Regions from separate parts of the Homo sapiens genome. Here all the other regions are reported to be linked to region 5. Evidence: microRNA targets listed by miRTarBase, many of them from high-throughput screens and not tested one by one. Region 5 holds a microRNA gene; each other region holds the end of a gene's coding sequence.
Evidence for each region. Region 5 holds the annotated microRNA hsa-miR-4723-3p (CCCUCUCUGGCUCCUCCCCAAA, at 3,089-3,110, shown strand). A microRNA usually pairs through its seed, bases 2 to 8, with sites in the 3' UTR of a target mRNA and lowers its output. Matches are read on the target gene's strand: a 7mer-m8 pairs with bases 2 to 8, a 7mer-A1 pairs with bases 2 to 7 and ends in A, and an 8mer does both.

Region 1 (4,969 bases), not on the chromosome of region 5:
GCGCCTGGCAGAGGGCACACTGTTAGTGAGCTGCAGATGTGTACTTGAGCCCTGGCCTACTAATTATACACCCACTGCACTGTCCATTCCCCACCAGCGTCTTCTCTGGAATCATTAGATGCCAGCAGCCATGTGAGCTGAGAGGTTGTGGCCCTGTGAGAACATGAGACAGTTTAGAGACTCACTTTATTTAAGAAAAAAAAAAGGGCCATTTTTTTCCCCTTGGTGCATATTTTCTAATAAAATGCTGTCATTAATACTCATTACTTTTGTAATAAGAAAACAAAAATGTGCACACTTCAGCATCCCCATCCCCAGGAAAGAAGCCTGTATCCTTCCTTGACCAGATCAGCTGGTGTGGAAGTGGCTCCTGTCATACTGTGGAGGGCGTTTCATTTCTCCCATTGCAGATTCCTCTGTGATGACCTGTCATCTCCCTGTCTCTCGCCTCTCTCTCTCCACACAGATGCAGAATGTCATGTATGACTTAATCACAGAACTCAATGACCGGAGCGAAGACCTGGAGAAGCAGATTGGCAGCCTGGAGTCGAAGCTGGAGCATCTCACCGCCAGCTTCAACTCCCTGCCGCTGCTCATCGCCGACACCCTGCGCCAGCAGCAGCAGCAGCTCCTGTCTGCCATCATCGAGGCCCGGGGTGTCAGCGTGGCAGTGGGCACCACCCACACCCCAATCTCCGATAGCCCCATTGGGGTCAGCTCCACCTCCTTCCCGACCCCGTACACAAGTTCAAGCAGTTGCTAAATAAATCTCCCCACTCCAGAAGCATTACCCATAGGTCTTAAGATGCAAATCAACTCTCTCCTGGTCGCTTTGCCATCAAGAAACATTCAGACCAGGGAACGGAAAGAAGAGAGACCGAGCTAATTAACTAACTCATGTTCATTCAGCGTGCTTGGTCCGACATGCCTTGAAACCAGAAATCTAATCTCTGTTTAGGTGCCTCTACTTGGGAGCGGGAAGAGGAGATGACAGGAAGCGACGCCTCTGGCAGGGCCCTTGCTGCAGAGTTGGTGGAGAACAGAAATCCACGCTCAATCTCAGGTCTTCACGCGGGGGGTGGGGGTCAGATGCACTGAAGTAGCCAACAGCGAAGCCAGTCCAGAAGAGGGGTCCGCTGGGAGGGAGGGTTGTGTCAGGCTTGGGGGATGGGCTCTTCGCCATGGGGGTCTTTGAACACACCTCTCTCCTTTCCTTTTGTCTACGGAAGCCTCTGGGTGACAAAAGTAAAAGAGAGCTGCCCACAACTTGCCAAAACAGATATACTCGAATCAGACTGAAAAAAAAAAAAAAAGACACAGACAAATAAAAAGCCAGATTTTCCACTCGATATTAATACCCACATAAACCTGTGTGTTTGCAAACGTGTACATGTACACACATACACATCCCACGTTCGCTTCAGGTCCTTTCTTATTTGAGCTTAATCCAAATAAAAAGGGACTTGACACCTTACCCTGCATACAATAGGCACCCCTTACATGTGTTTTGAGTTGGTCTGAATCTGAACATGGGGTGCTTTCAGTTCAGGTAGTTAGCTAGTTCTGGCCACATTCTGAGTTTCACTGAAGATGTGGATCCCTTCAGACATAATGCACATTGCTTTGTCCTGGATATGCACCTTGCTTGATTTGAAATGGATGCCAAGCCAAAATTGTTGGCATTCAGGAGGGATAAGCAGGCTTCTAAAAATAACAGCATCTGCAGAGTTTTCTTCTTCCATCCAAACAAGTTGTGTTTCGATGGTCCACATGACCAGGTGTATGTCTGTAAGTGTGGAGGGAGAGGACAAGAAATTGTGCATGTGTGTGCAGACATGCACAAACAGGAGCAATCCAATAACACCTTAGTGAATAGAAATATGGTTGGGGATTTGCTGAGCTGTATTTATCCAGCAACAGGTTTCCAGCCCCAGATGTTAGTAGTGCAAAAGGGCCAAGTGCCTCAATTGTGAGCCTCTGAGCTAGGAGGAGAAGTGATGAAGAGTGGCCTATGTGGTCCCTTCTACCTGACCTTAAGTCATCTCAAAATGAAATATTGTGAGAATGAAGGGAACCCTTAGGGAACCTTGTGGGTAAGGTAAGTGGACATGGATTTGTCAGTAGCCTGTTCCTACTGTGCCATGTTAATCTTGGTGCGAAAAACTATTCCAATACATCTCAAACTCCAAGAGACTTCAGAAACATCAAGATTTAGTGTAATGAGCGGCGCAGAAAAATGTTTTCATTGCTCCATAATCTGACCACACGTAACATTTGTGACGTGAAAACCATGACTTTCTCATTCTGAGGTCTTTGGTTTCTGCCTGTGGGAAATTGAATGGCACTGTATGGACTATTTCATCTGTTGATGGTAAAACAAAAGGGTGATTTTTTTGCTTGTGGTTGTCATCTTGGGTTTACCTTTGTAAGAAGACATCATCACCATTCTGAAGGCAGTGGCTTGGCATGGAGATTTTTATTCTGTAGCACTGGGCCTGTTCTTCTAAGGACAGCACAAGGTAGACAATTGTAGAGCCAAGGCCACTTTTTCAGGAAGATCTAGTCTCTTGCTAACCCTCTTCTTTCTCTCTTGCTATTGCTGCTGCTCTTTTGATGGTTTATAGTCTTAATGGCCTGCCTTGATAATTCCTTTGAACACTTTCATTAGTTGTTTTGCATACCAGAGATGCCGCACCTGCTGTTGGCTTATTTTTTTACTTGTTCTATTAACTGTTGATTATCTGAATGTTTCCCCTCCTCCTTGTTTCATGTCCCAAGAATGGTGCTCCTGTTTTCAGTGACAGTTCAGCTGAACATATAAGCAGATGTGTAAACAGATGAAGTAACCATGCAGTTTCCTTGTGGCATTAGTTCCATTTCACAAAGTGAAGACCACTGGTGGGCTGATCTGAGTGTGCCAATCCTGATCATTTAAACCTACAGCCTTCAACTGGTGATTCCTACCCACCGTTTTCATTCTGCTATAACCCTGTGATATGTGTGCGTGTGGGTGTGAGTGTGGGTGTGTGCACATATAGAGATTTAGTCTTAATTTCAACCAAATGACATGCAAGATTCCACTGCCACTCTTCCTGGCCAAAAGTGTGCACAGACTGTGATTTATTCATTGTGGTCTGTGACTTTAACCCATCATTGATGCTCTCACTTAGGTAAACCCTAAAGACCAAACTAGCAACACTAGTCAAGGGAGTGACTGGAGTTATTTCTGGTAGCAGTAGCCACTGGCATCCTAGAAACACATGGACATTTGTAGCATGAATTGACCTATTGGTAGTGCAATAGCTATACATGATTTTTATTCTTGGCAAAAGAAAATGCTTCAAAAAAAAAGTGATCAAACCTGCACATTGATCCTGTAATAGCAAATGGAAGGCTATTTCTCTGTACTAGCATTTCAGCTTTATGTGGGAAAGTTACCCGTTCTCCTGCAAGTACAATCAACCCTTGATGACTTAAGTATTAATTATTCTGGGTGTAGCTCACCCAAGTTTTCTTCCTACATCTTTTGGCTAATTCCACCACACCTCAGCATCACAGTCAGATGGGAAAAGGGGCAGGTGGATTCTCATGTCATGCCTTCTTGTACCTTATTTTCAAGTTTTGTGGTGGAGGAGGTTTAATTATCTGCTCAAGAATCTGGTATATATAGCCAGGTGCGGTGGCTCATGCCTGTAATCCCAGGACTTTGGGCAAGGCGAGAGGATCACCTGAGGTCAGGAGTTCAAGACCAGCCTGGCCAACATGGCAAAACCCCATCTCTACTAAAAATACAAAAATTAGCTGGGTTTGGTGGTGGACACCTGTAGTCCCAGCTACTTGGGAGGCTGCGGCAGGAGAATCACTTGAACCCCGGAAGTGGAGGTTGCAGTGAGCCAAGATCGTGCCATTGCACTCCAGCTTGGGTGACCGAGCAAGACTCCGTCTCAAAAAAAAAAAAAAAATCGGCTATATGTAAAAACTATTAATTATGTAACCTCACTCCAATACTGTACTGATCAAGATCTGCCCACTCCTAGAGGACTGACCCAATGGCAGATCCCCTACTATAATCTTTCTGACAACTCAGTGACAGGTAAAATCACTCTAATATTCCTAAAATATCTAGACACTTGAATTAGAAATACAGAACCACCCCCACCCCTGCCATTGCTTAAGCCATATTAAAGCTTCATGTACTGTAAAGTCAGGGATGTACTGTGATACTTTAAGACCACTAATCTCAGTGGAATTTCAGGACATAGCATTAGTTGGTAAATTACACCAGACTAGGGGCTCACTCCTCCTTAGATTGAAGTCCAAATAAAAGTCTTCACCTTTGGATCAAAGGCCACATATATATGATCATCATCAATAAATTGTCATAAAGTGTCTATGAACTGCTCTTGCCATCTTCCTAATACGTAACTTCATGACATCATGTCTCTAGAAGTGCTTAATACAATCCAAAAGAACAAGGGGGGAAGGCCCCAAGTCACCACTGACCGACCTCAGCAGGGGCCAGTGGTAGAACAACAATCTTGTGAATTAGGAGACATAGAAAATGTACGCAAAAGTAAATTCCAAGCGCTGAGCATGTACAAGCTATTTTTATTATTAAAAGCCAAGAAGGAAGAGCATTGAAGAAGTAATGATTTTAATATAGTGGGGGATTTCCCCCTTAAATTTTTATAATTTCCTTGTGAATAAACAATCATGGAAAAGAAGAAACCTAGTCATACAAAATCAGAATAAATAAAAATCTTAAGACTGGATCCACATCTTTGGCCAATTCATATAAGCACCTAATACATCAATTTCTCTGTACTTAAAATGAAGAGAATAATTAATATTCTTAAGTACAATGTTTTCAATAGAGAACAAATGAAATCACCTTTGTCATCAACAGCAGCCCAGACTGACTGTATCTAGATCACACCTTGATGTTACGTTTGAATGCAGTCAGTAGTTA
Region 2 (4,969 bases), not on the chromosome of region 5:
TCCCCAAAGTTTTTGTTGAAGACTGCGCAACTACAGATTTGGAAAGCACTCGGAGAGAAGTCTAGGATGTTTCACAAACTACAAAGCTGAAGAAAATGAAGCCCTATTACTTGTTTGTAAGATTTAGCACCCTTCTGCTGTATACTGTACTGAGACATTACAGTTTGGAAGTGTTAACTATTTATTCCCTGTTAAAATTTAACCTACTAGACAATGATGTGAGTACCCAGGATGATTTCCTGGGGCACAGTGGGTGAGGAGATGGGGACAGGTGAATGGAGGAGTTAGGGGAGAGGAAAAGTGGATGGAAGTGTCTGGAAAGGGCACGAGAGAGTCTTCCAGGTACTGATCCTGTTTCTTGCTCTGAGTGCTAGCTAGCCAGCTGTGTTCACACTGTAAACATTCATCAAGCTGTACATTTGGTGCACTTTTCTGTGTCATACCACAATAAAAAAAAACCTAGCATCTTACAAAAACAAGACACCCAAGTCCAGGCCCAAGGAGTAAGTACAAATATTCCTGTTTCTGAACCATTACTGTAATTGGCTCTTAAGGCTTGAAGTAACCTTATAGGTTACTCATAAGGCATATACAAATAAACTTGTTTGTTTTCTTTTTTCATTATGTCTTGTTGCTTAAACAGAACCTAGACTGAGTTAGGTTCTCATGGACTACAACACTCAATTCCACAGAGAATTAATAGAATTACATACCTTTGTACATTCTCAGAGAGGAACATGTGTTAAGAACTCAATACTGAATATATATCAATCGCCAACATTTAAGTGATGAAAAGCAGCGGTGTTCATGAAGCTAGTTCGTAAGTAGTATCTTGTTAGCTGACACTTCGTAATACAGTTATGCACTGCTTCACAATGGAGACATGATCTGAGAAACGTGTTGTGCAAACTCATCTAGAGTGCACTTACACAAGACTAGATGGTATAGCCTACTACACAGCTAGGTTACCAGGTATAGCCTACTACTCCTAGGCTACAAACCTGTACAGCATGTTACTATGTTGAATTCTGCAGGCAACTATACCACAATGGTAAGTAAGTATCATCAGTGTAAACAAACATAGAGAAGGTCAGCAAAAATGTATTATAATCTTATGGGAGCATCATTGTATATGCAGTCCATTGTTGACCAAAACATTGTTATATGGTAAATGACTGCATATACTATGCTATACTAATATACATAACAGAATGCTATGGATTTGGCTAACCCAATTGTCCAATTTTTCAGGATTAACTTGGGTGAAGGATTCTGTAACTAACTAAACTATTAGACCTTAAGGCCTGGCCTTAGTTCCTCTCCCTACCCACTTCTTGTTGTAGCGTATGTGGAGCTTTGCTAACAATTTTTCAAGTGTGCAGGCGCCTGTGAAAAGCAGAATAAGGAAGTGAACTGCAGACTGAATCAACATGCAGGTGAAAGGATAGCCGGTCAGGGTGAGCACACAGGCATTAAGGTTAGCTATACCACTGGCTTCCAGCACACAGTTGGAAGACCCAGCAAGCTACCAATCACTGGAAACTTTGGACACAACTCAAAGAAAAGAAACCCCAAAGCTAAGAAGAAGAATTAATTAATGTTGCTGCTAATCAGATTCAGTGAATTTTTACAGGCCAAAAGGATAAACTCTCTGAACTGCCTCAGTAACAGCTACAATAGGAATAAAAATAAAAATGATGGGCTCTTAATTCCTTAACATAAGGCATTCTTTTATTAAATAAAAGAATTTTGATAATCGATTTCTTACTACTCATGCCTTTCCATTACAATTAATTATAATTTCCGTAATTCATTGGTTTGGAATGCTACTAAAAGCAAAATTAACCCTGAAAAATATTCAAGTTCTGACCATTTATGCCTTTCCCTGGATGACCTGTGAGTAGTTGAAATTCTTGCCTTTTAAGTTGGATTTTCTTCAATACTTCTTTTATATCTTTTAGGATAGAAAAGAAAGAATCGATACACAGATCTGGTTGGAGAGAACATGGTTTAATTAAAGGCAAAGCTGATTTTCAGCAGCTGCAGGTCTTGCACAGACAAAAACAAAAAACAAAACCCAGAAAACAAAACAAAAAACCACAAAAGAAAGTTTACTACACAAAACCAGTTTCTGATAAAGATTCTCCTCCCCCTCATTACTCCACAGTGAGGATGATAAGGCGAGGAATCCCGCCCCAAGAGTCAGAAAACATTCCAAACACCAAATTCTCATGCAGAATGGGGCTTTAGATAGGAGCTGGGTATTACTGGGAGTGAGATGGTAAACCTGGTTAGCTTGTCTAGGGCGCAAGAATCAGTGACAGTTCAAACACTGGAATGTTGCAGCTGCCTGAATGCAGAGCTCAAACACACAAACTGGGTAAAGGTAGTAGGAAAAAGGCTTGGGAAGAGGAGAGAAAGGTGGACACAGGGAAGGGGCTGAAGAGAAGCACAAAAGGTTTCATATTGCCATTGGGTAGGGGGCTTCACCTTTTCAGACCTTTCAAAAAAACAAAACCCAAACACCATGTCAAACTAAAAGAGCAATAATGTAAGCATACGGGGCGGGGGGGGCTCCAACCACTCTCTCTGAAGAGCAATGAGCGTTATCTCACCCCTTTTCATTGCTGGGGTTGCCCAGACTGCAGTGACAACTGGGGCTCCTGGATGTGCTTTGCTCTACAGCTGTCTTCCAGCTCTTAAGTTCCACACTAACTCCATACACTCGCACACACAACCCCTCCCCTCTGGGACAGCAGATGGGCACGTGTGTGTACACAAACATACAGACACACAAAGGAGAGACCTCCCAGAAAATAAACCCTACCACTAGCACAGCAATTGAACAATTAGATTGTTTCCATAATTTCCCCTTAAAATATTACTTTTCCAGGAAATGACTAACAGAAATGCTGTCCTTCTGTTTCTACACAAGAACATTTTCAGTCCTCTTTCCTCCTAATAAATATCATACAAAGAGTTTATTTTCCTTTCTTTCGTCTCTTCCAAAATGGACGACGTCGTGTTTTCTTCTGTGCCTGATGGGCACATGTCCGTGCTGCCTTGAATTTCACTCTGAAAGTGGAGGCTGGGAGACTGCAGCTGGGCAGGGGCCTGGGCCCTCTGTGGGCTACGCAGATACTGCTGCTTCCTTCCTCTTCAGACTGTCTTTTGGGCCCCAACTGCTGGACCCCATGCTGTTGCTTCTTGGGGAGATGTGATGTTGCACACATTAGGAATAAAAACAATTACTAGCATACAGCATTGGGTAAAAGAAGGGATGGAGATGGGGCAGGAGGGTGGGAAGTAGAATGGGGGCACAAAAACCAACCAAAGAAAAAATAACCACACTGAAAGCTTCTACCTATTAGAACGTGTCAGGCTGTGAATGGACTAGCCTGCCTTCTGTGAGACTGCTTGCTGTGCGACTGTAAAATGTACAGGAATCAAAAACGTAATTTGAAATCCTACAGCAGTCTACCTGCTAGTCCAGCCCAGCACCACCACCCACACTGTATCCTCGATTGGGGCTCGAGCACCTACAGAGTGAAGGGCATTCCCTGCTGGAGTCTCCTGGCCAGAGGAAGGCCTACCAGAGCCTTCTGACAGGCCTTGAACTCTCCCTTATGGAACATTTCCACTGGCTGAAGAGGTCGGTTCCCCATCCTGTCACCACCAACCTCTCACAGGAGCAGTGAACGGGGCTTTCCTTGCTACACACTGACTAGAAGCACACCTGTGTATGGAAGAATTCAGTGTGATATTTTACTACTGAGAGTAATAATAATAAAAGATGTTTAAGAATAATTTCAACTACATTCTCAGTCAGCAAAGCAATCATTAATGGATTCCTATTTTATTCCCCAAAGAGGAAAAAAGGACTGAGAAGTTCCCATTGGCTTCTCCCATCTGCCTTCCCTTCTCAGCTTTCACTTCCCATGTGGCTGGGGACATGCACGATGGAGAAGGTGAGAGGCGGTGATACCAAGTAACTGAGTGAGATAAACAGCAGTTCCTCTCTCTCTCCCTCCGGAGGGCCCCGGGGGGACGGAGAGTTCCTGATGGATTTTTCTTTTTGTTGCACTGCGAACATTTCGTGCACACTCAGCGGGCTGGTGGAATACTTACACCCTCTTGACAGCGAGAAACAGAAAAGAGGGCTGCCACCTGCAGGGGACTGTGTGGGCCAGTCCTGCAAACCCAACATGCCATGGTTTATGGAGCCTTCATTCCCAGGTTGCCACTTTGGCCTCAGTGTGGAGGGTTCATGGTGCCTTGTCCCCGTTGCTGTTTCTGCTTCTGCTGCATTAACAGCTGCTCCAGAGCAGAAGGTCCAGGATGCATCATGGAACTGGACCAGATAGACTGAAAAACAGTCCAGATCTTGTCAGCAGAGGTCAAATGCCAAGTTGTCTGAAAGGGATTTTTCAATCCCAGCCAAATATAAAGGCATATATATGGCCCCAAAACCCAACCCCACTCCCCATAAAAATCCAGCTATTAGAAAAAGTCATTATAAGACTCTTAAAGCTAGTTAGTTTCCATTAAGACTATTTTAAACCAGAAGAAGTGAAATCACATTTTATGTCAAGTCTTTTTACTGAAACTCAGCTGTATGTGGTACCACACAGGGCATTTACTATAAAGTTTTCAGGCAAATAAAACATTTCTAAAATTAGATACTCTTATTTTGTCAGAAAAGGCTTAAATCAAACATTCCAAAATGAATCAGAATTTTCTTAACCTTAGAATGAAACTAAAACCTTTGTTTTTGTCCTCCTGAAGATACTGCTTTACCACTAGTGAATTCAGAAATTAAAAATTATCACTCAAGAATCTTGTAAGGCAGACCATGTTTCTAGGACTTTGTTATATATGTGCTATGTATCAGTCAACTCCGAGGGCCTGAGAAGTCTAGCTATTTATGTGAATGAAAGCAGAGACACCTTTGCTGTAATAATCTTGTGGT
Region 3 (4,969 bases), not on the chromosome of region 5:
CCTGACGGGCGCACGGGGCCGCCGGGCCCCACCTGGCATGGCAGTGGTGACGCTAGGCGAGGAGCGACCCATTGGACACCTGCACCTGGCGCTGCGCCACCTGCTGGAGCAGCACGGCGACGACTTTGACTGGTTCTTCCTGGTGCCTGACACCACCTACACCGAGGCGCACGGCCTGGCACGCCTAACTGGCCACCTCAGCCTGGCCTCCGCCGCCCACCTGTACCTGGGCCGGCCCCAGGACTTCATCGGCGGAGAGCCCACCCCCGGCCGCTACTGCCACGGAGGCTTTGGGGTGCTGCTGTCGCGCATGCTGCTGCAACAACTGCGCCCCCACCTGGAAGGCTGCCGCAACGACATCGTCAGTGCGCGCCCTGACGAGTGGCTGGGTCGCTGCATTCTCGATGCCACCGGGGTGGGCTGCACTGGTGACCACGAGGTGGGATGATAAGCTATCCCACTGATACCTCCTTGTCATGTTCAAATCCCTCTGAGAGGCAAAGGGATGTTGGAGATACAGGTCTGCTTTTCCATGCCAATTCGGACATTTATTTTCTATCTCTGTGACCCCCAGTAAATTACTAAATATCCTGGGCTTCAGTATCTTCCTTTGTGCCAATGGAAATAATTATTGCTCGGGGTTGTTACAAGGATTAGAAAAAATCAGGGAGCCTTGTACATAATAGGCATTTGATGTTAGTTATTATTTTAGCCCTTGGACAGCTCTGAGACAGGACGCATGCCCATTTCGCAGATGAGCTAGCGGAGGCATGCTGAAGGTCACACAGACTCACAACTGGTCAAGGTAGACTTAAACCCTCAGACTGCAAGTCCACAACAGGTCATAGGCTGAGGAGATGAGACACTTACTATGAGACAACGGAAGACAATGCCAGCTCATCACAGATCCCTTCCCTTCCTCTCCCCAGGGGGTGCACTATAGCCATCTGGAGCTGAGCCCTGGGGAGCCAGTGCAGGAGGGGGACCCTCATTTCCGAAGTGCCCTGACAGCCCACCCTGTGCGTGACCCTGTGCACATGTACCAGCTGCACAAAGCTTTCGCCCGAGCTGAACTGGAACGCACGTACCAGGAGATCCAGGAGTTACAGGTATGGTCTAGGTCTGGGGGTGGCAGAGTGACGGGGACAGGATCTGAGAAGTCACAGAGAGCCCAGAGAAATGACAAGTTAGCACTAGAATCACAGAACAAAACTACTTCCCAGCCCCTGCCTGTTTCTACATTCTCTGATGAGCCTCTTGGCTGTCTATGCTGGGGAAATGATAGGTATGGGCAGAGGTTGGCAGGGGATGAGGGGCCCATCCTGAGTGGCACCTACTGCCTACCCAGTCCCCCAGCTGTGTGCTGCTCCCTGTAATCTGTCCCTTGCTGATGGCCTGTTTCTCTGATCCAGTGGGAGATCCAGAATACCAGCCATCTGGCCGTTGATGGGGACCAGGCAGCTGCTTGGCCCGTGGGTATTCCAGCACCATCCCGCCCGGCCTCCCGCTTTGAGGTGCTGCGCTGGGACTACTTCACGGAGCAGCACGCTTTCTCCTGCGCCGATGGCTCACCCCGCTGCCCACTGCGTGGGGCTGACCGGGCTGATGTGGCCGATGTTCTGGGGACAGCTCTAGAGGAGCTGAACCGCCGCTACCACCCGGCCTTGCGGCTCCAGAAGCAGCAGCTGGTGAATGGCTACCGACGCTTTGATCCGGCCCGGGGTATGGAATACACGCTGGACTTGCAGCTGGAGGCACTGACCCCCCAGGGAGGCCGCCGGCCCCTCACTCGCCGAGTGCAGCTGCTCCGGCCGCTGAGCCGCGTGGAGATCTTGCCTGTGCCCTATGTCACTGAGGCCTCACGTCTCACTGTGCTGCTGCCTCTAGCTGCGGCTGAGCGTGACCTGGCCCCTGGCTTCTTGGAGGCCTTTGCCACTGCAGCACTGGAGCCTGGTGATGCTGCGGCAGCCCTGACCCTGCTGCTACTGTATGAGCCGCGCCAGGCCCAGCGCGTGGCCCATGCAGATGTCTTCGCACCTGTCAAGGCCCACGTGGCAGAGCTGGAGCGGCGTTTCCCCGGTGCCCGGGTGCCATGGCTCAGTGTGCAGACAGCCGCACCCTCACCACTGCGCCTCATGGATCTACTCTCCAAGAAGCACCCGCTGGACACACTGTTCCTGCTGGCCGGGCCAGACACGGTGCTCACGCCTGACTTCCTGAACCGCTGCCGCATGCATGCCATCTCCGGCTGGCAGGCCTTCTTTCCCATGCATTTCCAAGCCTTCCACCCAGCTGTGGCCCCACCACAAGGGCCTGGGCCCCCAGAGCTGGGCCGTGACACTGGCCGCTTTGATCGCCAGGCAGCCAGCGAGGCCTGCTTCTACAACTCCGACTATGTGGCAGCCCGTGGGCGCCTGGCGGCAGCCTCAGAACAAGAAGAGGAGCTGCTGGAGAGCCTGGATGTGTACGAGCTGTTCCTCCACTTCTCCAGTCTGCATGTGCTGCGGGCGGTGGAGCCGGCGCTGCTGCAGCGCTACCGGGCCCAGACGTGCAGCGCGAGGCTCAGTGAGGACCTGTACCACCGCTGCCTCCAGAGCGTGCTTGAGGGCCTCGGCTCCCGAACCCAGCTGGCCATGCTACTCTTTGAACAGGAGCAGGGCAACAGCACCTGACCCCACCCTGTCCCCGTGGGCCGTGGCATGGCCACACCCCACCCCACTTCTCCCCCAAAACCAGAGCCACCTGCCAGCCTCGCTGGGCAGGGCTGGCCGTAGCCAGACCCCAAGCTGGCCCACTGGTCCCCTCTCTGGCTCTGTGGGTCCCTGGGCTCTGGACAAGCACTGGGGGACGTGCCCCCAGAGCCACCCACTTCTCATCCCAAACCCAGTTTCCCTGCCCCCTGACGCTGCTGATTCGGGCTGTGGCCTCCACGTATTTATGCAGTACAGTCTGCCTGACGCCAGCCCTGCCTCTGGGCCCTGGGGGCTGGGCTGTAGAAGAGTTGTTGGGGAAGGAGGGAGCTGAGGAGGGGGCATCTCCCAACTTCTCCCTTTTGGACCCTGCCGAAGCTCCCTGCCTTTAATAAACTGGCCAAGTGTGGACTTGTGATTCAGAGGTTTTGAAAAGGTAGGCAGGCGTGGGGGAGGGAGGACTGGCTGAGCACCACAGGCTCCCCTGCCCCTGCTGGGGCCTGCCTTTCCTTTCACCCGGGACCAAGTCATGCATGTGCCCAGCCTCACCCCGGCCCCCAGTGCGTGCTTGGTCACACATACACACAGAGAATTCTTTATGCCTCTTTATTCCCAATCTCGTCAGCACTTTATAAAATCAGACTGGAGGGAGAGAGGACTGAGAAGGCTCCCTTCCCACCCTCCAAGCTCAGCCGAAGTCTGGAAGGTCTCCTGCCCCCTCCCTATAGAAGGGACTCTAGGGGTGGGGCTGGTGCAGGGGGAACTGGGAGCTGGGCCAGGCCTGCTGGGCCATCCTCTCCCCCTGCCAAGAGGGGAGCTGGGCCTGGAGAGGGGCAGGAAGTAGGACCAGCCCAGCACTCCTGAGTCCTGGGGCTCTCCCTATCCTGCTGACATTGGGGCTGGGACCCTGGCTGTCCCTAAATCACCCACCCCTGTAGCCCTACCCACCTTCTACATCTGTATCCCCTCCCCCCACCCGGCTTTCCCTAAATATTTACAAATGTACAGAGGGCTCCCCCTCCCCGGCTGGGATGGGCTCTATCCTCCCCCTCCCTCTCCTTCCTTCCCTTCCTCTCCGTGAGGGCCCATGGCCTGGTCTCCAGCCCTCCCGGGGCACCAGCCTGGGGATAAGGGGTGTGGACAAGAAGGACCTTTGTGCAAAGCAGCTGACATCAGGGCAGGGGAGGATGAGAGCAGGAACTGAGTCCTGGCCCTCCCAGTGAGCACCGCCCCCAGGCCTCTCCCAGGAGCAGGAGAATGTGCTGGGGATCCCAGGAGGGGTCCCAGACTCCTGGGTCCTTTCAGTCACAGCACCGTCCTAGCAAGCAAAATCTTCAAAGAGACCTCCTGGGGGACCGTGGGGGTGGTGGTGATTGGGGAGCAGACTGCTGACCCCCCCACCCTCCACTCGGCCCCGGCTCGGGCAGGGACTCTGCAGGAGAAAGAAAAGAGAGAGTGGGACCGGGAGAGCTCAAGTGGTGCCCCCAGGGCTCACACCGCCAGCCTTTCCTTGTCACCTCGGGCAGAGGCTCCAGGGCCCCCTCCACAGGCTGGTTCAGAAACAATGGATGTATTCAGTCCTGGGGAGGTGTGGCTGCATGCTGCAGGCATTTAGAGCTTGTCCTCACCTGTTCCTTCAGCTCCTGAAGCCCCAAAGTGGAGATGCCCCCAGTGGAGGTCCGCAGGGGGGTCTTGGGACGCCTCCATACCCGCTTCAGTCGATCCCAGGACACCTTGGGGTTCAGGGTCGGGGACAGCAGTGGGCTCAGGAAATTTGGTTGAGGAGAAGCGTGAGCCTTACCATGCCCAGCTGCCCACAGGACTTACTGCCACAGCAAACTCCCAGTAGGACACCCTCCTCCTCCTCACCCATCCCCTTCTCCTGACTCTGAGCCCTCAGGCCTGCCAGCCAGTCAGGGGACCCTGGCAGAGAACCCTGAACCTGACTTTCCAGCCAGGCCAGCTCCACCAGGCACCCCGCACTGCCCCCTTCTGCTTTGCCCACGGCCCCCACTCCCACCCTGCCTTCTCCAGGGCCCTTGCCTCATAGATGTAGTCGAGGATCTCCAGCAACGTGAGGATGCTGGCCCCAATGAACAGGCCCATCTGTCCCCCGAGGTCTCCTGGGAAGCAGGAGAGCAGTGTCAGAGGGAGCGGCCGGGCCGATCCACCCCCACACAAGCTGGGGGCAGGGACACCAGTCTCACCCAGCAGGGCTGACAGGCCATAGGCTGCTCGCTGCTCCATGGCTTCAGAGGTCAGGGCCTCAAAGAAGACAT
Region 4 (4,969 bases), not on the chromosome of region 5:
TGTGGCCACATCAAGTTTGTTCCTGCTTTGGACACTTTGTATTTTCTGTTCCTTCTTGTTAGAATGTTTTTTCCTCCAGATTTCTGCAGACTCAGTTTAAATGACATCTCCCTAAAAAACTTCCATCTTGTTTTCTACACTAAACTTGTCATTCTTAAGATTTTTATATTTATTGCTTTTTGTTTATTGCATTTATTTCCATCTTCAACTCAGTAGAACATAAGCTTCATGAAACTTGGGACCATATCTATCTTGCTCCTTACTGTACCCTCAGTACTTCTAGAAGAGAGTCTGACATGTATTCATTTTCTATATATATATATACATATATATATATATATACACACACACATATATATATAGAAAACAAATGAATCTAGATGTGAAAATAAGTGTCAGATAAGGGCTAAAAGAGTGCTTTGCAATTCTACAGCAGGAGAGACATCTTGTGGCTATCAGGTAAGGTTTCCTGGGGTGAGTATAATTTAGGTAGGTAGAAAGGTAGAACAAGTAAAGCTGTTTCTACAAATTGCTGTTCTTTAAAGTTTCTCTTCTAGAAAATAGACGTTTTTGTCTGTTTTGTTCATTGCTGTATCTTCAATGTCTTGATAGTGCCTTGCTCATTGTAGGTATTCTCTGAATATTCATTAAATGAATAATCATGTATTTTTCTAATTAAACATTTTTAAGAGTAAAATTGAGTTTTGCTTGCTTGTTTGTTTTTTATCAACAGTTTTTATTGGCACAAGGGACTCCTGGGTCTGAGTAATGCAACAGTGGAATGGCATATTCCAGACACTGCCCAGCCTGGAATCTACAGAATAAGATATTTTGGACACAATCGGAAGCAGGACATTCTGAAGCCTGCTGTCATACTTTCATTTGAAGGCACTTCCCCGGCTTTTGAAGTTGTAACTATTTAGTGAAAAGTTGATAGATCATTTAAAGAACAGCTTTACTCTCTACACATTATATAAGTGATTTCAAATGAATGTGAACTAGTGAACTACCATGTTGACTTCTATAATCGTCCCTGTTTGGGGACAGATAGTTTACTGCTAATGGGGTGGAGGGGTGTGTGTGTGTGTGTGTGTGTGTGTGTGTGTGTGTGTGTGTGTGAGAGAGAGAGAGAGAGAGAGAGAGAGAGAGAGAGGTTTGTCCCATATATCTTGCTCCAGCAGCCATATATCTTGTGGTCTACAGCCTAAAGCATGATTTCCCTTGAAGTCTTGGGGTTGTTTAAAGGAGAGTCCCTTCAATATAAAACCTCTGAAATATTAGTGAGAATGGCTCACTAATGTGAACAATGTTTAAATTATTTATTTATATATAGAATTACTGAATATTAGTACTGGGAAAATTTATAGAAATCATCTAGTCTTACCCTTCATCTTACATATAAGAAAAATGGTCTTTTCTTCTAATCACATTTACAAAATATGATATAAACCTTGACCATGAATGTATGAGCCTAATTAGAGAAACAGAAAATCAGCATGTCAGTTTTCCTTCATTCAAAATAACATAGTCTTTCTAAGCAGTCATTCTGGAGTTAACATGCCTAGTTCAGAGCCGCTGTGGATGCTCAAATCATTTCTGGAATTGCCTTCAGGACACAATTATGAGAAAGTCAGACTTCCAATATTTTGATCATGCCTTGTGTTTTCCTAAGTGTCCTTATCCCACTGGATTGTGTCTCTTACTCCCAAGACTTATTCCAAATGATTTTTTGACTCTTTTCATTAATCAAATTCACCCCAAACCAGAAAGTTTTGCCATTAGTGTAGATATTAAAAATATTACTGGCTGGGAAAGCACTCCTCAAAGCAGAGGTTCTAAATTAATTTATCTGTTCTTTTACCATTTGCTCACTCACTCACTCATGGACCCATTCAATCATAGAATATTTAAGATTTATATGCCCAGAATTATAATAGTGCCTAGGCCTTGATAATTAGTGAATTTGTACTTGGGGTGAATGTGTAAGTGTCAAAAGGTAACTATTATGAAGGAGAAAATAATCGATTTAATATGTAAATTCTGGGGAAGCATTTAAAAAATCAGTAATCTTCAAGTTATATCTTGTGTATCATCTGTGTTGGATACTCTAATTTGGGGGGAAAGAGGCTCCAGACAGTTTGCTAAATACTATTTTGAAAGTTATTTTTGGGCATTGTAAAATACCTTGCTTCATACCCCAAAGAATAAGATATGACAGTCTGACATCGATTGTCTGAAAGTACTAATTGCATTTAAAATTCTTTAAGTTAACTACAACCTCCCAGACTGCAAAGCAAATTTCCAAACCCCAGGTCATACTTTTGTATGTATGTAAAAGCTTTAGCATTTTAGGGAAAAAAATCAATCTGTATTTTAAAAATAAACTTTGAGGTTTGAAAATAATAACAATATTCATAATGGTAGTATTAACATCTATTATGTATAACTTAATCTCAACATAATTTATTGAATTAGAATGAACCTGGAACACTTTTTGATGAATTGGTATCCTAGAGGCTGTTTCCTTGGGCATTAACTGCTGGAGGATTAGGTAATCAGGGATTCCAAGTGTTGTGATCTTTTTTCTGATGATGCCACAGTCTTCAGTGTAAAAGTTCAGAAGCCTAAAAGAACAAGTGATCCTGAAAGTAGCTGATTCCAGACAAGAAAATTATATTAGAACTTATGATATGGTTTTTTAAAGTATTTGTTATTACTCAGAAGGGTTCATGAATCAGTTTCCACTACCTCTATTCCTTCTATTGAAGCTTTCCTCAAATCTACTTGTGATTCCTGATAGCTCACTGGCAACTGTACCAAGGTGGCCACTGTATCATCTACTGATCCTACTGCACCTAGCACTCTTGGCTCCAGATAACGCACAGAAACCTATTTTCTCACCAGCTGTCATTTCTTCTAGGGCATGCAGTTCTATGTTCGCAGTTCATGTGTAAAAATAAAACCAAATTCCTGGATTATCAATATCAGTTCTTTACCTGTGCATAAAAGAATATCATGAAGTAATTGAACTTATCTGTTGATATAAAAACACAGATCCAATTCATGTCTGTGGATGCTGCAGGGACTGGCTCACTGGAGCCAAACCATGTGGCAGAAACTCCTGAAATTGGTGGAAAAAGTGGAATATGGCAGATTGGGTAGGTAGGAGAACAATTTTGGAGATTTTGTTTCTCATGTTAAAATGTCTGCATTTTATTTGCTGTACCCTGCCTACTCTGGTTTTAAGGATTTTTTGACTTCTTTGAAAAGCACTGAATAATCTCTTTTCCAGGTCTAGATTTTTTGATGAGTACTGTGTAAAATTGTCAATATTCAATGGATTATTTAATAATAAATTAAGAATTACACTCATAAAAGTATTGTCTAATGAAAGGTAATGTAGACAAACGAACACTTTTTTAAAAAAAGAGGTGGAACAAAAGGTGGTAGATTACATGTAAGTTAGGTTGGAAAGTGATACAAATGACTTGTAAATAACCACTGAAGCACAAGGGAACCACTTCTTTATCAGTTCCTTTCTAACTTCTGAAGATGTACTGCTGGTAAAACACATGTATGGTTGACAATTCTTTTATTTTCTTTCTCTTTTTTACTAGTTGGGCAAAAAAATTTCCTAGGCAGGTAGCTAACTATGAAATTGTTTCATGCGCTAATTCTGAACAAAAAGACCAAGAATGAATTTACTTATGAATGTCCTTTTCTAATGTGCCCTCTTATGCTTCTCCTCCAATGTAAGCAAGCTTACTGTCTTTTTCTAAGATTAGCGCATGGATTCTATCTTTAGCCAAAAGGTTTCATCACTAGATGAACTTCTCATGTGTTTAGTTCTTCCAAATGATGCTCTTGCTTCCTGGGTATCCAACCTGACTTGCTGGTTTATATTGGCTTCCAAAATTTTAGAGTGATAGGGTATCGGAGAGGGAAATTTGCACATTCCTTATGCAATTTGTTAGTATGCATTCAGCTGTAACTCAGAAAATATTCCTGATCAACATCCATCCAAACACTAAAGACATTTATAACCTCACATAGCAGTAAGTCTTGAAGTGATAAATTCAGGTTTGGTGCAGCCACTCAGTGGCTCTTCTTAATATATTGACTTAATTCTTAGGCTTATCCTCTTAGCTAAAAGATCGCTACCTCAAGTCTACATATAATTGAATGCAGCAGCAAAATGGGAGGAGAGAGTTCTCTTTATAATCCCCTTTTAGAAGGTGGAAAATAGTAAGAACACAAGTTGAATTTTCCTTCTATTTCTTTGTTCAGAACTGTGCCACACAGCTACTCTTACCTGCAAGGGAAGCTGGAAAAAAGAATATTTAGTATTTTGTGCTTCTAGAGAGTGAGGCAAGTTCTGATAGTAAGAAAGAAGAGATAGCCGAAGTAGCTGTCATAAAATTATGTTAGTCAAGACAGATTAGTTATGCTACAACATTAGAGATTTATTTCTTGATCTCATGACCTGTCCATTGGGGTTAGCTGAAGGATCTGTTCCACATCTCATTTGAGTTCACAGGCTGACAGAGACTTCCATTCTAAACATTCTTCCATTGTGAGGGAACAGGAACAGGTGCTTCCATGATTAGGGGGAAGGGACAGGGAGAATCATGCAATAGTTCGTGAAGCTTCCACATTACTGTGCATTTTTCACTGGGCAGGTGACAGAACCAGGATATTTGCAAGCAGCCCTAAAGGTTACCACAGTGGGCAAGCAATAATATCTGCATATCCAAATTAACTGCTCTTTGAAATAATTAGAACTCGTTTTACTCTAGAAAATATATTTTGGAAAAGAACACACATTGGAATAATGACGAAAAAAATTGCTTTCTGTATTGCAAAATGTATACGTTACTTTAACAGATTTATATCAAGCACCTATATACTTTATGGCAGAAATTATGCTAAATCCTAAGAATGAAACAATAATGAAGGCAAAGCTATTCCC
Region 5 (4,969 bases):
GGGCGGAAGTCCGGGTTGGGGTCACCTGACCGGAGAGCCGGCTAGATATGGCGTCCTCTTTGCTTGCGGGCGAGCGATTGGTGCGTGCTTTGGGCCCCGGCGGGGAGCTGGAGCCAGAGCGGCTACCCCGAAAGCTGCGGGCCGAGCTTGAGGCCGCGCTGGGGAAGAAGCACAAGGGCGGTGATAGCTCCAGTGGCCCCCAACGCTTGGTTTCTTTCCGTCTCATCCGGGATCTGCACCAGCATCTGAGAGAAAGGGGTGAGCCCCAGTCTCCAGTCCGGGGTCCCCTCCTTGTGTCCAGATCGATTCCCTCCTGAGGTCTTTTCCCATCATTCCCCTTCTTCTACGGAGCACTCATCTAGACAAGTCAAGAGTCACTCCATAAATCCCAGGGCCACCCACTTTCTTAACTCCCATGGGAATTTCTCGTGGATGACAAATTTGCTTGTGCAGTTTCTGCTCTTTTGAGAGCCCCCTCTTCACTTCCAGGCACACCTAGGCCCAATTCACCCTTGAGAAAGTCTAGGTTTTTACCAAATACAAATATCACAGGTTTTGTCTCTTCTTTTTCTCCACTTTAGGAATCAGCTTAGCATAGTGAGCTTGTAGGAATCCGGATTTCTTTCCACCTCAAAAGCAAGAGTGGTGAAATCTGATACTTTGTTTTGTTTGTTTGTTTTTTTAATATAGGATGGCAAAAGCTGTGTTGAAAGATCTGGCCTGAGAGTAGCATGTGAGTTCCAGTCCTAGCTCTGTCACTAATCCTTTGAAGGAGTCATTTCTCCTCGCTGGGCCTCAGTTCCCTTATGTGTAAAGGGAAGGAACAGGACAAACTAGCACATAAGGTATTTTGCCAGAAGTAACATAGACCAGCCAGAAGTGCAAAGGGTAGACTGCTCAATTATTAGAACTAGAAAGGACCTTAGAAAGAGATTGCCTAGTATTAGTGTCCTCTGAGCATTTAGCATCACTATGACCTAAACTTATTTAGGGAAGAGCTGTTGTGGCCACAGAACTGATCTAACCCAAAGGCACAAGTAAATGGCTTACTTGTTAGTTATAACACTGGCAGGATAATTGAGAGCTGACAGCTAAAGTCACCTGCGCAGCACTGGGAGATACCTACATGGAATTATCCAAAATTCTTTTCAATTGAAAATGATCCTGGAAATGGATTAATGTAGAGATGGCCCTGTTTTATTTTGGTAGAAAGAAGGGCTACACCCCTCTTGATCTTAACCCTTCAACCTCAGCTCGTGGATCATTGTGTTTGTGAAACCTTTTCTTCTCAGATTCCAAACTATACCTCCATGAGCTCCTAGAAGGCAGTGAAATCTATCTCCCAGAGGTTGTGAAGCCTCCACGGGTATGTAAGGGATATGTTTGTGAGAGTGGTTATTGACTGAGTTGGGCTTATCCATGATACACTGAACTTATAAATCAACTTTTAGGCTTGAAAAATTGTTTTTGAAATCTTTGGGATCTGGGGGAGCCAGATATTGTCCTCCCCATCAGCTGTTTGGAAAATTGAGATCAAAAAAAAAAAAAACAGTTTCAAAGCACTGGAGTTACGACTAGTATGTGGGTCTCCTGATACCTTTAGCAGTGCTTTACCCCTGGAACCAATGATTGTGATGTGCTTTCTAACAAGCTGGGAATATCATTCTTCTCATTTGATTTTTCTGCTTCAGAACCCAGAACTAGTTGCCCGGCTGGAGAAGATTAAGATACAGCTGGCCAATGAGGAATATAAACGGATCACCCGCAACGTCACTTGTCAGGTAAGGACATGCTCTTCAGTACGTGGTCTAGGTAGCCCCTCAGAGTAGGGCCCTGCAGTGGAAGAAGATACAGAGTTTAGAAAAAACATGGAAACTTGGTTTCTATACTGTTCAGGGACCATAGGAAGTCTGCATACAAACAACACAGTTCCCATCTCATTCACTGAGACTCTGGGCTGAGATGGTGACCAAGTTTTAAACGTCATAGAAGTGGGAGTTAGCCGGGCACGGCGCTCATGCCTGTAATCCTAGCACTTTGGGAGGCTGAGGTAGGTGGATCACTTGAGGTCGGGAGTTCGTGACCAGCCTGGCCAACATGGTGAAACCCCGTCTTTACAAAAAATACAAAACTTAGCCTGGCGTGGTGGCGGGCACCTGTAATCCCAGCTACTCGAGAGGCTGAGGCAGGAGAATCACTTGAACCCAGGAGGCGGAGGCAGAGGCTGCTGTGAGCCAACACTGCACCATTGCACTCCAGCCTGAGCAACAAGAGCAAGACTCCATCTCAAAATAAATAAATAAATAAATAAATAAGTGGGAATGAATCTTGGAGGCTTTTTTTCTTCTTCTTTTTTTTTTTTGAGATGGAGTCTCACTCTGTCACCCAGGCTGGAGGGCAGTGGCAGGATCTCTGCTCACTGCGGCCTCCGCCTTCCAGGTTTAAGTGATTCTTATGCCTCAGCCTCCCAAGTAGCTGGGATTACAGGCATGCACCACCACGCCAGGCTAATTTTTTGTATTTTTAGTAGAGACCACGTTGGCCAGGCTGGTCTTGAACTCCCAGCCTCAAGGTGATCCTCCTGCCTCGGCCTCCCAAAGTGCTGGGATTACAAGGTGAGCCACTGTGCCCAGCCATTCGAGCATTTCTTCTGACAGGGCTCCCTACTACTCTATGGCATGCTCCTACCCTGGAACAGGAGAGTAGATGGGTACTGGCAGCCTATGTCCTCTCTCCGAAATGCCTGCTCTGTAGTCCAGAAAAGAGTCAAAATGGTTCCAGACAAAAGAATCCATGGGGAGGGCAGAGTTAATATGTTGGGGAATAGAGAGGGCTGAGCCAGACTGTCAATGGATGCTCTCTGAGCTGCTTCTATTCTGAATCATCTTCTTTTTCTTTTTCCCAGGATACAAGACATGGTGGGACTCTCAGCGACCTGGGAAAGCAAGGTGAGGTACTAGGAGATCAGGCTTCTAAAACCTTTTCCTGAGATGGGTCATGACACTCAGGCTTGTTGTTTGACTGAAACCCAGTTGGTGGGGGAGCCATGAGATAAGAGCACCTCCTAGAGAATGTTGAACTAAAGGTGCCCTCTCTGGCTCCTCCCCAAAGTGAGATCATTGAAGGCTCTGGTCATCACCATCTTCAATTTCATTGTCACGGTGGTTGCTGCCTTCGTCTGCACTTACCTTGGAAGCCAATATATCTTCACAGAAATGGCCTCGGTGAGTAGGCACTGGGCAGGGCAGGGTGCCCCTGGTGGGGGTGTTAGTGGGTAAGGGAGGACGTATGTGAAAGTGCCTTGCACAGGTTAGGTATTGAACAGATATTTATGCCATTAATAAGGGGAGCATTAGAGCTTTCCAGCAGTCACGGGAGGTTAGGTAATAACCCCAGGAGAAGCCACATTCTCTTTTCTTCCCCTCCCCCAACTTAGAGGGTGGTTGGGGGGCTCTCCATCCTCATTAAAGTTGCTGGGGTACAGAGCTGGTTGTTGGCCTGCATCCCTTAAGCCTGGTTCTCCCCATCTCCAGCGGGTGCTAGCTGCATTGATCGTCGCCTCTGTGGTGGGTCTGGCCGAGCTGTATGTCATGGTGCGGGCAATGGAAGGCGAGCTGGGAGAACTGTAACTGGTGCTTCATCATCAAGTCTAGAGAAGACTTTGGGGGCTTCAGGCTCCAATTGGCAGTCACCGACTCAGTCAACCCATCAGACTTTTTGTATTCAGCTCCAGTTAGTCAGAAGACCAGCCCAGGCCAGCTGCTGTTTCTGTGGGGAGCCCTAATCTTCTGTGAATTTCCAAAGGGAGCATTGGAGGAGATTGAGATAACACATCTTTAAAACAGAAAGAACTGGTCTTGGTCTATCAGTACCTCTTCCTGAATCTGGTACCCATCTGCCTTCTCCAGTTCATTCTAAACACTGCTGGGACTAGGGTTTTTCCATCAGGAGCAAATGGAATCCAGGCCTTCCCAGAAGTAGACCATACTGCCTTGAACTTGTCCATATGTACAAACTGATCACCAGCTTTCTCCATACATTTTTAATGCAGACCTGTAATTGAGTTCAGAAGCCTCCAAGAAAACAGAAAGGATCCCCTTTCTCCAGTTTGTGCTGGAAGAGGAGCTGATCAGAGACATCAAATAAGAGAAAGATGGGTTGCTAGAGGATGGTAGAACTGGAAGCAAGGCAGCTACCTTTTTGCAAAAGGAAATGGTGTTAGGCCCCTTTTCCAGAAGATAAGACAGACTCATAGAGATTAAATGATCACTATGGTCCTTCTTCTGTTAAATGGAGCCAAAGACGCCTATGTTGTTCTGAAGTCTTGTAATGTTTAACTTCTGAGAACTTAGATTAGTGGTGTGATGATAGAGTCTGTATAACGCATTGAAAAGGGTATCAGGCTTAGTTATTTATCCAATAAATATTTATTGTATGCAGGGTATTCCTATTTTAACTCCTGTGACAACACAAAGCATAGCGATTTCCATAGTTCTAACTGTTCAGGGTCTGCTCCTCCTGGTACACTCTTTTTGGTTCACTGTATGTACTCCTGTTGTCTTTTTTTTTTTTTCCAAAGCACTTTTCTGTTTTCATAAATTATATACTCATTCACTCAGTGGACACTTCCTCTACAATGTTTGCCAGTTTCTGTTAGTTGGGAGAAGTGTCAGCTGTGAAAAGAAAAAGTAGGTGGCATTTTACAGTGTTTCCAGTAACCTGAGCTATATAAAATTTGTGTTAAAAAGCTACACTGGGCCAGGTGAGGTGGCTCACACCTGTAATCGTAGCATTTTGGGAGGCTGAGGCAGGCGGATCACTTGAGGTTGGGAGTTTAAGACCAGCATGGCCAATATAGCGAAACCCCATCTTTACTAAAAATACAAAAAAATTAGCCAGGCGTGGTGGTACATGCCTGTAATCCCAGCACTTTGGGAGACCAAGGTGGGAGGATGCTTGAGTTCAGGAG
Region 6 (4,850 bases), not on the chromosome of region 5:
CTGAAGATGCACCAACCCTTCTTTTCTGGCACCATCCACACCCTCACTTTTTTTTTAGAGACAGAGTCTCAGTTGCCCAGGCTGTAGTGCCGTGGTGCAATCATGGCTCACTGCAGCCTCAAACTCCTGGGCTCAAGTGATCCTCTTGCCTCAGCCTCCTGAGTAGCTGGGACTACAAGTGCGCACCACCACACTCGACTAACATTTTTCTTTTTATTATTTATTTATTTATTTGAGATGGAGTCTCACTCTGTCACCAGGCTGGAGTGCAGTGGCGTGATCTCAGCTCACTGCAACCTCTGCCTTCTGGGTTCAAACAATTCTCCTGCCTCAGCCTCCCGAGTAGCTGGGACTACAGGCGCACCACATTGCACACACATTGCACCACACCCAGTTGATTTTTTTTTTCCTCACTCTGTCACCAGGCTGGAGTGCAGTGGCACAATCTCAGCTCACTGCAACCTCCACCTCCTGGGTTCAAGTGATTCTCCTGCCTTAGCCTCCCGAGTAGCTGGGACTATAGGCGCATGCCACCACGCCCAGCTGATTTTTTTCTTTTCTTTCTTTCTTTCTTTCTTTCTTTCTTTTTAAAGACAGATTCTCACTCTGTTGCCAGGCTGGAGTAAAGTGGCACAATCTCAGTTCACTAAAACCTCCACCTCCCGGGTTCAAGTGATTCTCTTGCCTCAGCCTCCTGAGTAGCTGGGACTACAGGCGCGTGCCACCACGCCCAGCTAATTTATTTTTTATTTTTTTAGTAGAGACAGGGTTTCTCCATGTTGGCCAGGATGGTCTTGATCTCTTGACCTCATGACCTGCCCCCCTCAGCCTCCCAAAGTGCTGGGATTACAGGCGTGAACCACTGCACCCAGCCTTCTTTTTATTTTTTGTAGAGATGAGGTCTCACTATATTACCCAGGATGGTCTCAAACTCTTGGCCTCAAGCAATCCTCCTGCCTTGGCCTCTAAAAGTGCTGGGATTGTAGGCATGAGCCACCTTGCCCAGTCCCACACCCACTTTCTTCTGGCCCTGTGCAGAGCTAAGGGATTGCAACAGGCCAGGGGAATTGGCAAGGATGCTTGGAAAGGGTAGGGGGACCTACGCTCTACACCTGGCTCTATTACTGGCTTGCTGGGTGACGCTGGGGAAGGTCTCACCTCTCTCTGGGCCTCCATGTTCCTCTTAGCCTAGTGAGGGACTTGGCTCAGTGTGGAGGAGCATTGTAAACTCTAGTCATCTGTGGGGTCCATTTGCAACAAAGATCTAGTTTGCACTGAACCTATATGTCTTGCTATAGGGGTCTCAAGTTTTTATTTGCAGGGAGGGATGTTTCCACTGAATCTGACTTTATGTTTTTTCCATATAGTTAATCAGTTATCCCTGCCCCCTTATGGAAAAGTCCATCTTTCCCCCAACCAACACCACATTATCTTACTGTTACTTTATAGTAAGCCTCAATATTTGGTCGGGTGAGTCACCCATCTTGTGCTTCAAAATTATCTTGACAGGCCGGGCGCAGTGGCTCTCACCTGTAATCCCAGCACTTTGGGAAGCCGAGGTGGGCAGATCACTTGAGGTCAGGAGTTCGAGACCAGCCTGACCAACATGGTGAAACCCCATCTCTACTAAATACAAAAAATTAGCTGGGCTTGGTGGCGCATGCCTGTACTCCCACCTACTCGGAAGGCTGAGGCAGAAGAATTGCTTGAATCTGGGAGGTGGAGGTTGCAGTGAGCCAAGATCGTGCCATTGCACTCCAGCCTGGGCAACAAGAGCAAAACTCCGTCTCAAAAAAAAAAAAAAATTATCTTGACTATTCTTGGCCTTTTGTTCTTCCTTACATATGTTAGGATCAGCTTAACAATTTCTACAAGCAACCTGTTGGAATTGTGATTGGAGGTGCCCTGCAATTATAGGTTCAGTGAGGATTGACATCTTTATGATATTGAGGTTTCCTGCCCACAGAAGCTCCCTTGAGAAGTGTGACCTGGGCTCTGAAGTCAGACCTGGGTTAGGATCTCAGTTCTGTGATGGAGGATAAGTCCCCCGTGGGGACATATCCTCTTCATACCCACTTCACTGATGGTCATGAGGATGAAATACTGCGTGTGAAGCACTCAGCACCATGCTTAGCACCTAGTAGGTACTCAATGAGTAGAACTGCTATTGGGAATGATTATCCCCTGCTGCTCCTGTCATCAGAATTGGTGTCTGCTTCCTGGACAGTTTGCCAAGGATGCTCCTGTCCCTGGTAAAAGTTATGGACTCATAGGGAGTCCCCAGAGGTCCACTGATTGTAGCTGATGGGAAACCCATCAGGTGAGACCATAGGGGTGATGAGACACACAATTTCCAGCCACCTCCCAATATCTTCCCCCGCACTGTCCTAGGAGCTCAGAATCCGGGGCCCCACTCCTAACTCAGGCTCAGTAAGGCATGGGGAGTGGTAGTTGCTCTTTGCTGGAGTAGGGAAGGGGAAGGGGAAGGGGAGAGTATGACTTCCTGGGCCCTCAGTTCCAGGCCAGTTTGGGAAGGAACTAGCCTGCTGAAACTCCAGGCTGTTAGGTTGGCCCGGATGGGAAAGACAAAGGCAGAGACAGATGAGATGACAAACAAGATGAAGGGAGTAGATAGACAAAATAGCATCCTGGAGGAGATAGATGGTCAAGGCCAGGAGCTCCATGGAGGTCACCCTGCTGTGCTCCTGACTGTAAGCTCACTGATGCTCCAAGCCTTTCAGACAGTTAGGGGTGAAGGATAGCCATACTCAAACTGTTAGCTCCTCCTGAAGACACCATCTGATCTGCCACCTTCTTCCCTCTCTGGCCAACAAGAAGAGGGGCTGAGAGGGCCCCCAGAGAAAGATGGGTGGAAAGAGTATGTAGATACTCACCAGGCAGGTTGAGGGCGCCATCTCCAGTAAGTAGCAACAGCAGCAGCAAAATCCGCTGGGTGCCCTTCTCTGTGCTGCTGATGGTCCTGGAGGGTGCTGGGAAGAAGTCCTGGCTCAAACAGGGGAATAGATTAACGGCTCCGAGACAGTAAGGCACTGCTGGCTCTGTTGCTGCCTCTCATCTGCCTACTGAGTGCACCATCCATCCCCAGGGGCCAGACTCCTTCCCAACAGACCCCAGGGGGCTTTTCAGAGTTGGAACCAATGCTGATGGGAGGACGATGGGGGGTGGGGTTTCCCATCAGCTGCAATCAGTGGACCTCTGGGGACTCCCATTCCAACTGGTGAATATCGCCACGGCCCCTAAGTGTCAGGCTTCGCTGAACAACAGGGCAGATGTCCAGGCCTTCCAGGCTATCCCCTGACACCTGCATCCCAGGGACATAGCTGATCCCATGGGTCTTCCACTTCCTGGGATAAGAGGGGATTATTTGATTTTAGAGATGGAGATCAATCTCACCCTCTCTCCATCGCACAGATGGGGAAAACAAGGCCAAGTGACTCACTGAAGGACCAGAACCGAGGTTTCCTGTCCTCCAAGGCAGCTCTTTCTATTGCCCATAACTGCCACAATTTTCTGACTCTCCCCAGATTGCATAGCTCAGGAACCTGCTGAGGCTCTCAGTGGCCTTGAGTATGAAGATCCCAAATAGGCTTCACAGGTCCTAAGTTCCCCACCAGACTTCATTCATCTGACCCGCAAAATCTTCCTCTCCTCTAGGAAGCTGCCAGGACCCACATTTTAAGTAGTCAGTCTCCATTGCCCTAGGATGGAGGTGCCTGTACTTGTGTGACTTGGTCATTGGTGATCCCATCAGACAAGGGCTCCCCAGAGTGAGGACCAGTCTCCATCTTCAGACAGGGAGAGAGCAGGTAGGGCCATCTCCTTCATCAGACAGGGGCTCCCTCCCATGAGGACCAGACTTTCCTCCACAAAGCTTAGGACCCTGAGGGCAAGGGTTATATCTCTACCATTAAGTCAGAAATTTTTAGGGGTGCAATTCTCCCTCCCATTAGACTGGATGCTCTTCAGGGCAGCCTGTGACTCTCCCACCAGACAAACGGGATTTTGAGGGGCAAGATCTGTCTTTCCTATTAGACCCAGGCAAGTGCCCCAAGGAGTTGGAGATCCACCAGTCAGAGACATTGATTCCAACACAAAACTTTATTGTCAACACACAGATGTCTGGCCCCACTGGCCTTGCCTTTCTCTTCTTGGTTCTGGGGCCCACTGAGGCCCCCCACCAGCTCTGGGCAAGAGCAGGGGGCCAGGGATCCCCATCCTTAGGTCAAATCCTGGCTGCGTTGGCCAGCACCCCCTTCTGTGCTCATCCTTGCTGCTAGGGTTCCCACTCTCATCATCCAGCATCCTCCTCTCTCCTTGCTCCACCGGACCTGGGGCTCACAGGCACCAGACCTGCAGGTGCTGCCACCTTCACAGCCCCTGGCCTCTGCCCAGGTATAAGGGAGAGGATGGGCTCTGGCCAGGCTCTGCCAAGCCACACTAAGGACACAGGAAGACGCAGCGGCTGGGTGTGTGTGTGCAGGCCCCTTGGCTCCCATCCTGGCCTCTCAGTGGCTGCTCTTGTGTTTTTTAAGGAGTATTTGTGAGCTAGAGTCATGAACCTGCAAACCAAGAGGTCTTCTTGTTAATCCCCCACTCCCCCCGATATGGCAGCCTCCGTTACTCACCTCCTCCAGTCTCACCAGCTTCCCCAGCCAGGCCTCCCAGAGAAGTGCTTCATAGGTCTAACTTGAGCCTACCTAGTACCCCCTCTGAGTTTGGGAGCCCAGGGTATATCCCAGGCTGATGGTGTGGAGGGGCAGAAAAAGAAACTAAGTAACGTGGGTGTGTGCCTTTTTCTCTCCAGGAGTTCAGGAGACAGCTGGTTTTGT

Region 1: miRTarBase lists KCNN3 as a target of hsa-miR-4723-3p. Seed matches in the 3' UTR shown: 7mer-A1 at 1,802-1,808 and 7mer-A1 at 3,718-3,724.
Region 2: miRTarBase lists SMG7 as a target of hsa-miR-4723-3p. Seed matches in the 3' UTR shown: 8mer at 4,014-4,021.
Region 3: miRTarBase lists ASIC4 as a target of hsa-miR-4723-3p. Seed matches in the 3' UTR shown: 7mer-A1 at 3,760-3,766 and 7mer-A1 at 3,483-3,489.
Region 4: the mRNA of ASAH2 is a reported target of hsa-miR-4723-3p. Seed matches in the 3' UTR shown: 7mer-m8 at 1,148-1,154.
Region 6: the mRNA of CATSPER4 is a reported target of hsa-miR-4723-3p. Seed matches in the 3' UTR shown: 8mer at 4,326-4,333.

What each region holds. Positions count from the first base shown.
Region 1 is chr1:154,703,770-154,708,738 of GRCh38, reverse strand. KCNN3 (potassium calcium-activated channel subfamily N member 3) reads left to right here. Exons shown (of 8, transcript NM_002249.6): 8 at 467-4,969. The coding sequence ends at 763. Among named protein-coding and RNA genes, the nearest start is that of ADAR, 98 kb to the right of the region's middle.
Region 2 is chr1:183,551,214-183,556,182 of GRCh38, reverse strand. SMG7 (SMG7 nonsense mediated mRNA decay factor) reads right to left here. Exons shown (of 23, transcript NM_001375584.1): 23 at 1,992-4,365. The coding sequence ends at 4,252. It overlaps NCF2 (neutrophil cytosolic factor 2), which reads left to right. Exons shown (of 15, transcript NM_000433.4): 15 at 1-621. The coding sequence ends at 65. Among named protein-coding and RNA genes, the nearest start is that of NCF2, 37 kb to the left of the region's middle.
Region 3 is chr2:219,537,086-219,542,054 of GRCh38, reverse strand. ASIC4 (acid sensing ion channel subunit family member 4) reads right to left here. Exons shown (of 10, transcript NM_018674.6): 7 at 4,898-4,969; 8 at 4,734-4,813; 9 at 4,319-4,423; 10 at 3,283-4,122. The coding sequence ends at 4,009. It overlaps CHPF (chondroitin polymerizing factor), which reads left to right. Exons shown (of 4, transcript NM_024536.6): 2 at 1-439; 3 at 930-1,109; 4 at 1,413-3,101. The coding sequence ends at 2,672. Among named protein-coding and RNA genes, the nearest start is that of CHPF, 4.2 kb to the left of the region's middle. RefSeq lists enhancers at 3,281-3,836, 3,837-4,391.
Region 4 is chr10:50,183,269-50,188,237 of GRCh38, reverse strand. ASAH2 (N-acylsphingosine amidohydrolase 2) reads left to right here. Exons shown (of 21, transcript NM_019893.4): 21 at 734-3,377. The coding sequence ends at 923. Among named protein-coding and RNA genes, the nearest start is that of ASAH2, 66 kb to the left of the region's middle.
Region 5 is chr17:28,357,624-28,362,592 of GRCh38, forward strand. It overlaps MIR4723 (microRNA 4723), which reads left to right and starts at 3,031; the gene lies at 3,031-3,111. It overlaps VMA12 (vacuolar ATPase assembly factor VMA12), which reads left to right and starts at 24. Exons shown (of 6, transcript NM_152464.3): 1 at 24-258; 2 at 1,293-1,366; 3 at 1,692-1,781; 4 at 2,906-2,948; 5 at 3,112-3,224; 6 at 3,534-4,969. The coding sequence starts at 48. The coding sequence ends at 3,629. RefSeq lists enhancers at 1-69, 182-281.
Region 6 is chr1:26,202,219-26,207,068 of GRCh38, reverse strand. CATSPER4 (cation channel sperm associated 4) reads right to left here. Exons shown (of 10, transcript NM_198137.2): 10 at 4,105-4,580. The coding sequence ends at 4,527. Among named protein-coding and RNA genes, the nearest start is that of CATSPER4, 14 kb to the right of the region's middle. RefSeq lists an enhancer at 4,642-4,850.